Homo sapiens: one gene and its partners. The protein of the gene in region 2 purifies or fractionates together with the protein of the main gene of each other region. This does not show direct contact. Each region holds a gene or a part of one and is shown on either strand. Other genes may lie near its edges.

Evidence for each region.
Region 1: the proteins of GATD3 (region 2) and GLRX5 fractionate together in Homo sapiens (co-fractionation; one large-scale study listed by BioGRID). This does not show direct contact.
Region 3: the proteins of GATD3 (region 2) and PPA2 fractionate together in Homo sapiens (co-fractionation; one large-scale study listed by BioGRID). This does not show direct contact.

What each region holds. Positions count from the first base shown.
Region 1 is NC_000014.9:95,537,897-95,541,549, reverse strand, and holds part of GLRX5 (glutaredoxin-related protein 5, mitochondrial precursor), read right to left. Parts: intron 1-3,653.
Region 2 is NC_000021.9:44,136,634-44,140,286, reverse strand, and holds part of GATD3 (glutamine amidotransferase-like class 1 domain-containing protein 3, mitochondrial isoform 1 precursor), read right to left. Parts: intron 3,111-3,653; coding exon 2,991-3,110; intron 38-2,990; coding exon 1-37.
Region 3 is NC_000004.12:105,442,910-105,446,562, forward strand, and holds part of PPA2 (inorganic pyrophosphatase 2, mitochondrial isoform 1 precursor), read right to left. Parts: intron 3,594-3,653; coding exon 3,474-3,593; intron 1-3,473.

The DNA of each region.
Region 1 (3,653 bases), on a different chromosome or scaffold from region 2:
ACCTGCCTGTTCTTGACAGCAGCTGACGGTTTATCAAAATTAAACTTAGCTGCTTCTTTAATTTTTAGATGAATAGGTGTAATAGGCAGCTGGCATCAAGGCCAAACGTTGGCACCCTTCTTAATGACTATGCTCTTTTCCATTTTTAAGAAAGTTGATTACCAGTTTAAATATTTAAGGAAATACCCAATTGCTTCCTATAGAGTGAAGTGAGAAACTCCTAATAATAATAAAAGACTACTCTTCATAAGTTGAATATTAAAATGAATCCTGCGGATCCACAAGTAACTGTTTACACATGGTTAATCTCTCTCACACTTTAGTTTTCAAAAACTGCAATATGCAGTGGTAGTTCTTACAAATATCACTTGAAATTAACTCAGAATCAGAGAGCTACTCCTGAAAATTAGAAAATCACATCCAAGAATGAATTTTAATGATAATCATTATTTCATATGTGATAGACGGTGGTGATTCCATCTGGGGCAGAAAATGCTGACTGCAAAGTTATATGGCAGAGTAACACTAGGAACTGGGAGTTAGGAGGCTATCTTACAAAGTCAGTTTACACGCATCTAATGCTCCACCAAAAAAACCCATACAAACAAATTCATATTCCAAAGTATCAACCCAGAAAGAGTACAGAAATGATACTTTAAAATTCCCTTCCAGAACTTTCAAAAGGTATTTTTCAAAATTCATCACATTCAGAACACTGGGCATTACTCCTGATTTGGACACTAAATTACGAGAGCAGCATAATCATAGTTTTCTTTCTTTTTATTTTTCCTGGTAGAACCTCACTACAGTAGCTTCAGAATCTGATATGAGTTCCAACTCTGTCTCTTACCTACTAGACTCTGTGATCTTGGGCAAGTTACACCACCTCTGAGAGTCACAATTTCTTCATATTCTCTAATTTAGAGAATGGCGTTAAGTCGAGATAAGATGATCTGAGCTGAAAGCACGGAAATCAGTAGACCCTCACTAGAGGAAAAGCAAGGCACGGGGCAGAGTGGGCAAGGCACAGGCTTAAGGATCAGTAGATCTGGTTTGCTAGCCTGTAAATGTAGCCTCAGACAAATCTGTTAATCTTTTAGCCTCAGTTTCCTCATCTGTAAAATGGGAATATACTCTACGCCTCACATATTATGAAGATTCCATGATATCTAAGGAATGAAATGAATTGAGCTCCCAGCATAGTACCAGGTACAGTGTGGACATTCTCTCCATACCAACATGCTCCACCACCCACCCTTCACAGTAATGCTTTTCTGAGAAAGGCAACAGAAAAAGCATAGGAAAATAAAGCAGGAAAAAGTGATTAAGTATACCCTAAAGTAATGAAAACGCCATTCAGGCCAGGTGCGGTGGCTCACACCTGTAATCCCAGCACTTTGGGAGGCCAAGGCTGGTGCATCACCTGAGGTCAGGAGTTCAAGACCAGCCTGGCCAACATGGTGAAACCCTGTCCCTACTAAAAATAAAAAAAATTAGCCAGGCATGGTGCCAGGTGCCTGCAATCCCAGCTCCTTGGGAGGCTGAGGCAGGAGAATCGCTTGAACCCGGGAGGCAGGGGTGGCAGTGAGCCGAGATTGCCCCCTGCACTTCAGCCTAGGCAGCAGAGTAACACTCTCTCAAAAAAAAAAAAATATATATATATATACCATTTATTGAGTTAAGGATTACTGAGTTTCATACTCTTTAAGCGTTTTACAAAAATAATCTTATTTAATCTTTACAAAAATCTGACAAGGCAGGTACAATTATCCCTACTTTACATAAGATGAAGAAACTAAGGCTCAGAAGGGTTAAGTAACTTACCGAAACTCACAGTGACAGCGCAGTGAAACCAGGATTTATATCCAGGCTTCCAGGAGTACAAAAGCCCAGACTCTTAACCACATGCTACCTGAGTCCCTCACCAGAGGTGGCCTCTACCCTCTAGCTGCCATCTCACTCCTGCCCAGGAGCTACAAGTGCACTGCACACATATCTGCAATATATGGGACTGTTTTATGCCTTTAACATTTACATATACAAATGGTATTATGCCATAATTACGTGTTTGCAACTTGCTTTTTGACTAAATATTGTATTTTTGAGATTCAGCCATGTTAAATACATCTAGATCTAGTTCATTTTAACTACAGTTTAGCTTTCCATCATGTGACTAAAGTTTATTTATCTGGTCTGCTGCTAATAGACCAAGATCCCTTCCTGTCAGTTTTTCATTATTGCAAGCCATGCTGCAATGAACGCGCCAACACAGGTATCCTAACACAGAGGTCCCCAACCTTTTTGGCACCAGGGACTGGTTTTGTGGAAGACAATTTTTCCACGGACCAGGGAAGGGTGGGGATAGCTTCGGGATGAAACGGTTCCACCTCACATCATCAGGCATTAGTTACATTCTCGTAAGGAACGCACAACCTAGATTCCTCACATGTGCAGTTCACAATAGAGTTTGTGCTCCTATGAGAACCTAATGTCGTCACTGATGTGGCAGGAGGCGGAGCTCAGGCGGTAAAGCTCACTTACCCACCGCTTACCTCCTGCTGTAAGTCCTCGATCCCTGGCCTGGGGGTTGGGGACCCATGTCCTAACACACACATGCAGAAGTCAGTCTCTAGGCCAGGGACAGATAAACTATGGTCTTCAGGCCAAATCCAGTCTACTTCGTAATTAAAGCTGTATTTTCATAAATAAAGTTTTATTGAAACTCAGCCTGCTCATTCATCTACATATTGCCCATGACTGACTTCAGGCTATATAACAGCAGAGTTGAATAGATGCAACAAAAACCACACAGCCCACAAAGCCTGACGTACTTAGTCTCTGGCCCTTTACTAGGGTAAGTTTGCAGATCCCCCTCTCTAGAATATATACCTAGGAGTCACGCAGCTGGGTCTTAGGCTCTGTTCACCCATAGCTTGACTGGGTACTGATAGTTACTCCTCCAAAGTGTTGGTACCATTTTATACTCCCATCTGCAGCATACATGTGCACCACACAAGCACATACACACAACTTGTTATCCAACTTTTAAGGTTCACCAGCATGACATGTTTCACTACTGTCTTCAATTCCCTGATACTGAAAAGGTGGAGCGTATTTTCAAATGCTTAATAAACATTCAACAACAGGATATGGTTATTTATTCAACAAATCATTTGAGTCCCTATTCTGTCACTGTTCCAGATGCAAGGACTACAATGATGATCTAAATCGGCAGCAAATGTTTATAATGCCTTTAAGGCCGCAGAGTTTGCAATATAATGATAAATAAAAGCAGTATTTATTTATTTATTAAAATGCTCACTGAAAGCTTGCTTTGCATAAGCGGTACACACAGCACCACAGGCAGTGGCATAAGACATATTCCCTCGTCTCTGGAGGGCAAAATACTATGTATAGACAAGCATGGTCTCAATGTGTTAAAAAAAAAAAAACTGTTAGGAACTAGATCTAAATGTTAATACAATAGTTTCCATAAATTACAGGTGATTTTCCTTCTTTAAACTTTTCAGTGTTTTCTACATTGCTTCCATGAGCATAAGTTCCTTTATTAAGACCAGGATTAGGAAATGATGATGTCAGTCTACTGGGACCTGATCCCTTTGTGACTGTCTTCTGTGTGCACTCCAGATAAA
Region 2 (3,653 bases):
CACCTTGCAATCTTTCCCGTCCACGGCAAACGTGCTCCTACCGGGAGACAAAAGGCCTCCTCAGACAGCCTCACAACCAGGGTCTATTCCTGGGGGGCTTCCTAGGCACAGCTCCAGACCCTCAGTCAGCTGCAGCAAGGGACATGGGCATGGCTGCACATATGCGCGTTTGATGTGAACATATTTTCCTGTTTTTTAAACAGAAATAAGCATAGGAAGCAGGAGGATCAGGAAGTGGTGCAGCAGGAGGCCACCAGGGCGAGAGGGCCCACGCCCTGGAACCTTCCGGAGCAGCTGGCAGAACCCGGGCTGCGGTGCTGAGACTCAGACGCTGGTTTCCGGCTCCTAACTCCCGTGCTGCTTGTTAGCTTTCTGTTACGACGTTGGCTGTGTCGGGCCTCGGGCAGCCTCTGACCTTCCCGCCTGCCCTTTACCTGCCCCAAAGCAGGACTCTAATGTTCCCCGCCTTTCTGACTGTGGGTCTCAGGACCCTCTCCTGAGAGGGTCCCCCACTCCCCGGGGGAGAATGCTGACGTCATGTTTCCCTGAGCACTGTGAGCCACGCCAGCAAACGGGGTTGTGGGAACCCCAACTTGAAGCCAATTGGTCAGTTCCAGAGGCTCAGACAGTTTACCGGTATGTGTCAGAGGGCAGTTTTGGGGACGGAGCCCTCAACCCGTGCGATCGGACGCTACCCCGGGTCCATACTGTTGGAACTGAATTAGAAGGCAGCAGCGACCCCTGCGTGGTGCATGGGGAAGACCCTTCACACCCACCTTCTGTGTGGACAACTGTTGTGGTGGGAGGAGGAGAAACACGGTGTGAGAGTTTTTCCTTAAAACAAAGGGGCAGCAGGAAACTCCAGGAGTTCCCAAAAAAAGAAACGCAGTCGGCCTCCAGGCATACCAAGCACTCTTGCTTCGATGACCGTGAAAGAAACGCCAGTTTACCTGCGACACCAGCATCCACACCTCAGGCCGAGGAGCAGGAGCTGTGGAGGGCACGCGGGGCAGGGGAGGTCTCTCCACACTGCCCATGGGGCGTGTGATCTGGCAATGCCACCAAATCTACAAGTGGACACACCTTCCCACGAACCCACCCCTGGGCTCTACGCCACCCTCACGCACCCCAGTCCTCTGCCCCAGCATTTTCCACATGGCTTTGCTGGCAGAGTGCTGGGAATCTTCTGGAGGCAGTGGGTGTTCGCCGTCCCCATGGGTGACTGTCTCAGAGGGTGCAGAGTGGCCACGGCTGCAGCTCATTAGAGCGCGCCGCACCATGGACACGCAGGGCAGGCTCACCCAGAACGCTCTGGACAGGTCAGTGAAAATGGGAGCTTCGCCCAGGGGACGTGGGCTCAGACACACGGGCACATCAGTCCCAGGGCCCATCAACACCTTGAAAGCCAAGGCCAAGACCCACTGACCCTGAGAACCACCACACACCTCACGCCTGTGCCTCTGGGTTGGCAAAATGTGGAGGAGCCATGCCAGGGCACGGAGCCCCCAGCACACCCTCCAGCTGCCCCTGCGCCCCGCCACACACGGTGTCAGTGGTCAGAGCCTCGTGGAGACGGCAGCGACGCAGGGACAACTGGACAAAAGATCGAGCCTGACGTGGGGCTGCGTGAGGTCAGGGGTGTGGGCGGCACCGACGAGGCTTGCTGGCTTTCAGGAGACCGGGGACGACAGGCTGGGGTGGGGCTTCCGGTGAGAGAGGGGTGAGGGCACGGCCAAGGGCACTGAGAAAACAGCTGGCATCTGAGGAAGGAGGCCTCTGAGGTTTCGGGATAAGGAGGGGCGCATTCTTCGGATGGAGACTGCCTACCCCTCGACTCTGGGTGCAGGCTGCCCAGGGTGGGGCAAGCGGCCAGCCAGCCTCCAACCTGCCCTTGAAACAGGAGCTGCCGACCGGGGCCGGCCGTGCTGGGGCTGCCACCCACACCATGGCACAGAAGCCACCTGCACGCTCCGATGCACTGTGGCCAGTGCTCCTGCAGGTGGCAGAGCTGTCCCTGGAGGGTCAGCCTGGCACCACCTCCACCTCTCAGGCAGGGCCATGGGGGCGGTGCCCAGAGAACCTCCATGAATGTGCAAAGAGAGAGAGGAGACACAGAGAACAGAAAGAGGATCTGGAACTCAAGGACGCCACCGTGTGGGAGCCAGCCAGGCCTCCATGATTCACGGTCCAGCTACCAAAACAGCCACGCCAAGGCGGCCTCCCTTCTTCCTGTCAGGACCGCCGCCCAAACTACCAAGAAGGAAACCCATTTCTGATCCTGCAAGGTTCCATAAGAGAATTGGGGCCAGGCGCGGTGGCTCAGGCCTGGAATCCCAGCACTTTGGGAGGCAGGAGGGTTACTCGAGCCCAGAAGTTCCAGACCAATTTGGGCTACATACATGGCCAAAAAAAAAAAAAAACAAAACCATGGGCATGGTGACATGCGCCTATAGTCTCGGCTACTCAGGAGGATGAGGCTGGAGGATGGCTTGAGCCCAGGAGATCATGGCTGCAGTGAACTAGGATCGTGCCACTGCATCCCTGCCTGGGCAACAGACCAAGACCTCATCTCTACAGAAAAAAAAAAAAAAAAAGAGAGAGAGAGAGAAAAAAAACTGGCACTTGCAAGGAGTAAATACTCAGAGACTGATTTCAACGTGACGAGACCTACAGCACAGTGATGAGATAAGAGGGAGCCCCAAACCCACTCTGACAAGCTGCTGGGTACCAGGAATGCTGAGAGAAGAGGCAGCAGAGAAGCAGAAACAAAAGCATGGCTCGCTACAACGCTACCTAAGACCCAACCCTAAGAACAGCTCCCAAGTCAGAGGGCAGGCACGTGCCCTGCCCAGACCCTAAACCCAGAGACTGCTCCTATCACCACCCCCTCCCATCGCCGCTCCACTGACCACATTGGACAGCAGACAGGTGCACCCCCTTCCCATCTGCTCCACATGGAAAGCGGAAGACCTTGGAGCTCAAATACGCACAGGTTTTTAGCCGCTCCAAAGCCTCCTGGAAAGATGGCAGCATCATGGTTGGCTGCACTGAGGTTGGCCAGGTCTGTGATTTTGCCACGGGCGATCCTCGCAGACTCGGTCAAAACATTCCTGGGAAAGAGCACAGGGCAAAAAGCCTCAGCATGCAGGTGAAGGACTGTGGAGCGCGGCAGGGGCACAGCCCACAGGCAACACGCTCCACACACGTGGCTCTCAGCCACACGGGGACTTACTTCCAGGTCAGCATGTTTGGTCACTACCTGGAAAGACAACATGGTTCTAGCAACGCTAAATCTATGCTGGGCTCTTCCGATCAGCACTTCAGAACCTGCGCCAAATCACTCTGAATCTTCTGCAGTCAAGGCCCATGGGAAATGGAAGTCTCTCCGAGTGTCTAAAGCAGACAGAATTCTGTGCACTCATCAGGACGGTGGGACTCAGAGGGGAAGGTAAGAAGCCAGGACTCAGGACCAGTGAAGCAACCCGAAGGCCAGCCACCGCAGGAAGCTGCTAGCCCCCAGGTGTGGGGGCCGAAGGTGCAAGTCCAGGTGCAGAAGCCAGGGTCCCAGGCAGGAAAAGAAATCACAGGGGTCCCCACTGGTGAGAAGCACAGCCCCAGGAGGCAGCTATGGCTTCTTCCTCGAATCTCCAGCT
Region 3 (3,653 bases), on a different chromosome or scaffold from region 2:
AATGTGACACACATACACAATGCATTAATTTATTCATTTCACAGTTATTGATCACCTACTCCATGGCAGGCATTAAGCTGGGTAGTCAGAATGTATCAGTGAACAAAAGAGACAGAATACCTGCCCTCATGAAGTCTGCATTCTAGCTGGGAGAAATTAACAATAAACATAATAAATAAATTATACAGCAGGTTACAATTTGGCAGGTGTTATAGAAAAGGGAAATAAAGTATGAGAGGGGGAATGGGAGTAGGGTTAAAAGTTTTAAAGGATGATTGGCAGATACTATGAAGAAGATGAGTTAAAGGCAACCTAAGGAAGCCATGTGCATACCTGGAAAGGAGTGTTCCCAGGAAAGGACACAGTGAAGGTGAGGGCTTGAGACATCAGTGTGCTTTGAGCACCAGAGTGCCAGTGTGGAAGTGAAGAAGCAGAAGGCAGAAGGAGAGTTGGAGATGAGATTAAAAAGATAAATGGGACCAGGGGCTGGCTTTCATTTTAACAGGGTCATGTCTGAACATCAACCATCAAGCAGAAAAAAAAAAAAAAAAAAAATCAGGTAGAGCTATTCCATAAGCTATCCCATAAGCAATTGGCATGATTTCAGCATTCTTAAAAACATCATTCAATTTAGTTATTTTCTTTGATAAATAACTAACTTATATGCAATTTATGGTGTATTCACACACACACACACACACACACACACACACACACACACACACACAGACTCTCTCTCTCTTTTTCTCTCTCTCTCTCCAAGATCAGTCAGGTTTAAAAAAGTAGTACAGATCTCTAATTGAAAATGGCAGACAGAATGCAGGTCTATTTCCTCTTTCACTTCCATTCTAGCCACACTGGCTTCCTTTTTGATACTCACACATGCTAGGCCTATTTCCACCTCAGGACCTTTATACTTGCTGTTTCTTGTTGGACTGCTCTTCCTCTAGATGTCCACACTACTTGTTCCCTCACTTCCTTTAGATCTTTACTCAAATAACACCTTTTCACTGAGATCGTCTCCCTGTCTAAATTGCAACAATCCTAATATCCCCTAGTCCCATTCCCTGCTTAACTTTTCTTTGACATACTTACCACCACCTGACATTTTACTTGGGGTTTATTTTGTTTATTGTCTGTTTATCTGACTAAAATAAAAGCTCCAGAGAAATATCTGTCACTTTTTATCACTGCTTTACCTGCAGTACTTACAAGAACACCTTGCAAATATACAGGCCTTTAATAAATATGTACTGAATGAATGAACAGTTTGGTGAAGGCCTGGTGAGGACACAATGAGGTAAGTTAGAAACACTGAAGAAGACTTTGTGGTGGATAGACGTGAGAAAGGGGGAATGCTGCAAAATGAGGATAGAGAAGTAAGCGGAGGCCAGATCACACAGGGTTGAGTAGCAATGTTAAGAATTTTGTATTTTATCTTTTAAGCAACAGGAGACCATTAAGGTGTTCTTGTACAAGAAAAGCATCTGCAAATTTGTGTTTTAAAAATATCAATTTGGATATTGGATGGAGTATGAAACTTAGGTAGGCAATGGTGAATGCAGGGTGAATAATGAATTAAGGGACTACCACAGTCTAATTCTGTTTTATTAGTAGAAGAACTACCGTACCTGCCAGATTAATACCACTGCAGAACATCTGGAAATCCAGACACATCCAGAGGAGCACAGAAGTTTGGCAGGACTTTAAATGGAAAACTACAGAAGCTTCTTTTGTTTTTACCTCCGTTCCTCCCCTTCTCTCTTTCCTGTCAATAGGTTTGCTTTTTTATTTTTTTCATAATTTTAAATTAGTAGATGAATTAGTAGTGCCTATTATACCACATCATAACCAGCAGTTTAGTTCTTGATTGCCCCAATCAGACTAAAAACAACTTTAGGGAAAGAACCATACGATAATAAAAGTACCAGTCTTAATTATAACAATAATTGATTACTACATGTTACACACTATTCAAATGCAGTAACTCATTTAATCTCAACACAAAGATAAGAAGTAGATATTTTATGTTCTCCATTTTACAGATGAAGAAAATGAGGAAAAGTATCTTTCCCAAGGCCCAAGGTCACATTACTAGAAAGTGACAATCTCACTCCCAAACCCACATTTTCCAGTCACTTATTATGAGGCCTTGATGTCACATCTATATCCCATCTGTCTTTATATACCCAACACCTAATATCCTGCCTAGCACATAAATCCTTAATAAATGTTTAAAGAAATAAATACATGCACCTTAGTTTATTCTCTAGCTCCTCTACTTACGTCTCTGTTTTTGTCTGTCTCTAATTCATTGGCTTCTTCAGCATTACCCTCATCCACACATTTCCTACAGGCTGCATCCCCTAAGCTTTACAGAACTTTTTCAACCTTTTGCTGTTGGGTCAAACAGCATACCTATTTAAGTACCTGGAGAGTTAGAAAACCTGCTTTCATGGTTTCCACAGGCATTCTCATTCTTAGCATATCACTTTAGAAGTGCCCATTTTAACCAAGAATGTATCCATGTGGGTGATCTAACTGAATCAGAGACAGCCTGACTCTTTAGAAAACAATTTTTTTTTAAATTTTCCTGTGAATGTTTATTCTACACGGGCAGCTGCTTTTTCATGTTGGATAAAACAAGACCTCTCTTCTCAGATATTTCCCCAATACCATCTTGAAATTTCATGCAAAATATTAAAATAAATAAAAATATAAAAATTAAATTTCCAGACAGATGGTCTATGGTTTTTATAAACATAAAGGCAGATGGTTCTCTGTGTCCCCAAAACCTAGAATTTTGATTCAGCATATTCTGAGTTTTACTCACTAAATAATCTGGAAGAGTTACCTCTTCCTGGGAATGAGGAAACATGAGAGAAAACCAAAAGAGGTAAAGAAAGGAAGAAAAGCAAATAGTTGTTATTCTCCAACAGGAATGCTACCTTATCATTATTTAGCTCTTGTTTTCTCTGCTTTCTACTTAAAAATTATTAACTCATAACAGTAAATAAGTTGTGCAATTCAATTTACAATGAGTTCCAGGAAAAAGTTAATAATTTAACACATTCATCTGTTAAAGTTTAAAATATAAAATTTGTGCTATCATATATGAATGTGTATAAAAGCATAACTTGTCATGTTCAAAGGAATGACTGTAGATAAAGCCTCGCTTAAAAGTTTTTCACTGACACTTAATAGGCAAGACCAGAAAAAAAAAAATGTATTCAAAATGTCAAATGTGAACATTCCATATGCCTGACTCCAAGAACTTGAGTATAGACATATATATGGTTTAAAACAAAATTTATTGATATACTAAAACTCCATCCACGTTAATAAATTCCAAATTTACAAACCTCTCCAAATGACATGTCCTCAGAACCAATTTAAATTCAGTAGTTCACAGGATTTATAAGGCAATTTTTTCAGAAGACAGGAACATTTTACCATTGTAACAAAAATGTTACCTGAGGGAGGGTACCATAATTCCATATATAACCCTTGTAAGGGAAGATATTCGCCACATAGCGTAGCTTTCCATCCTTTACATATTGTTTAATGGGATTCATTGGCTCCTTGGTGGCAATCTAAGCAAATCACAGAAGGAAGAAAAGGAGATGGGATAAGAAATAATTAATTCTATGTCC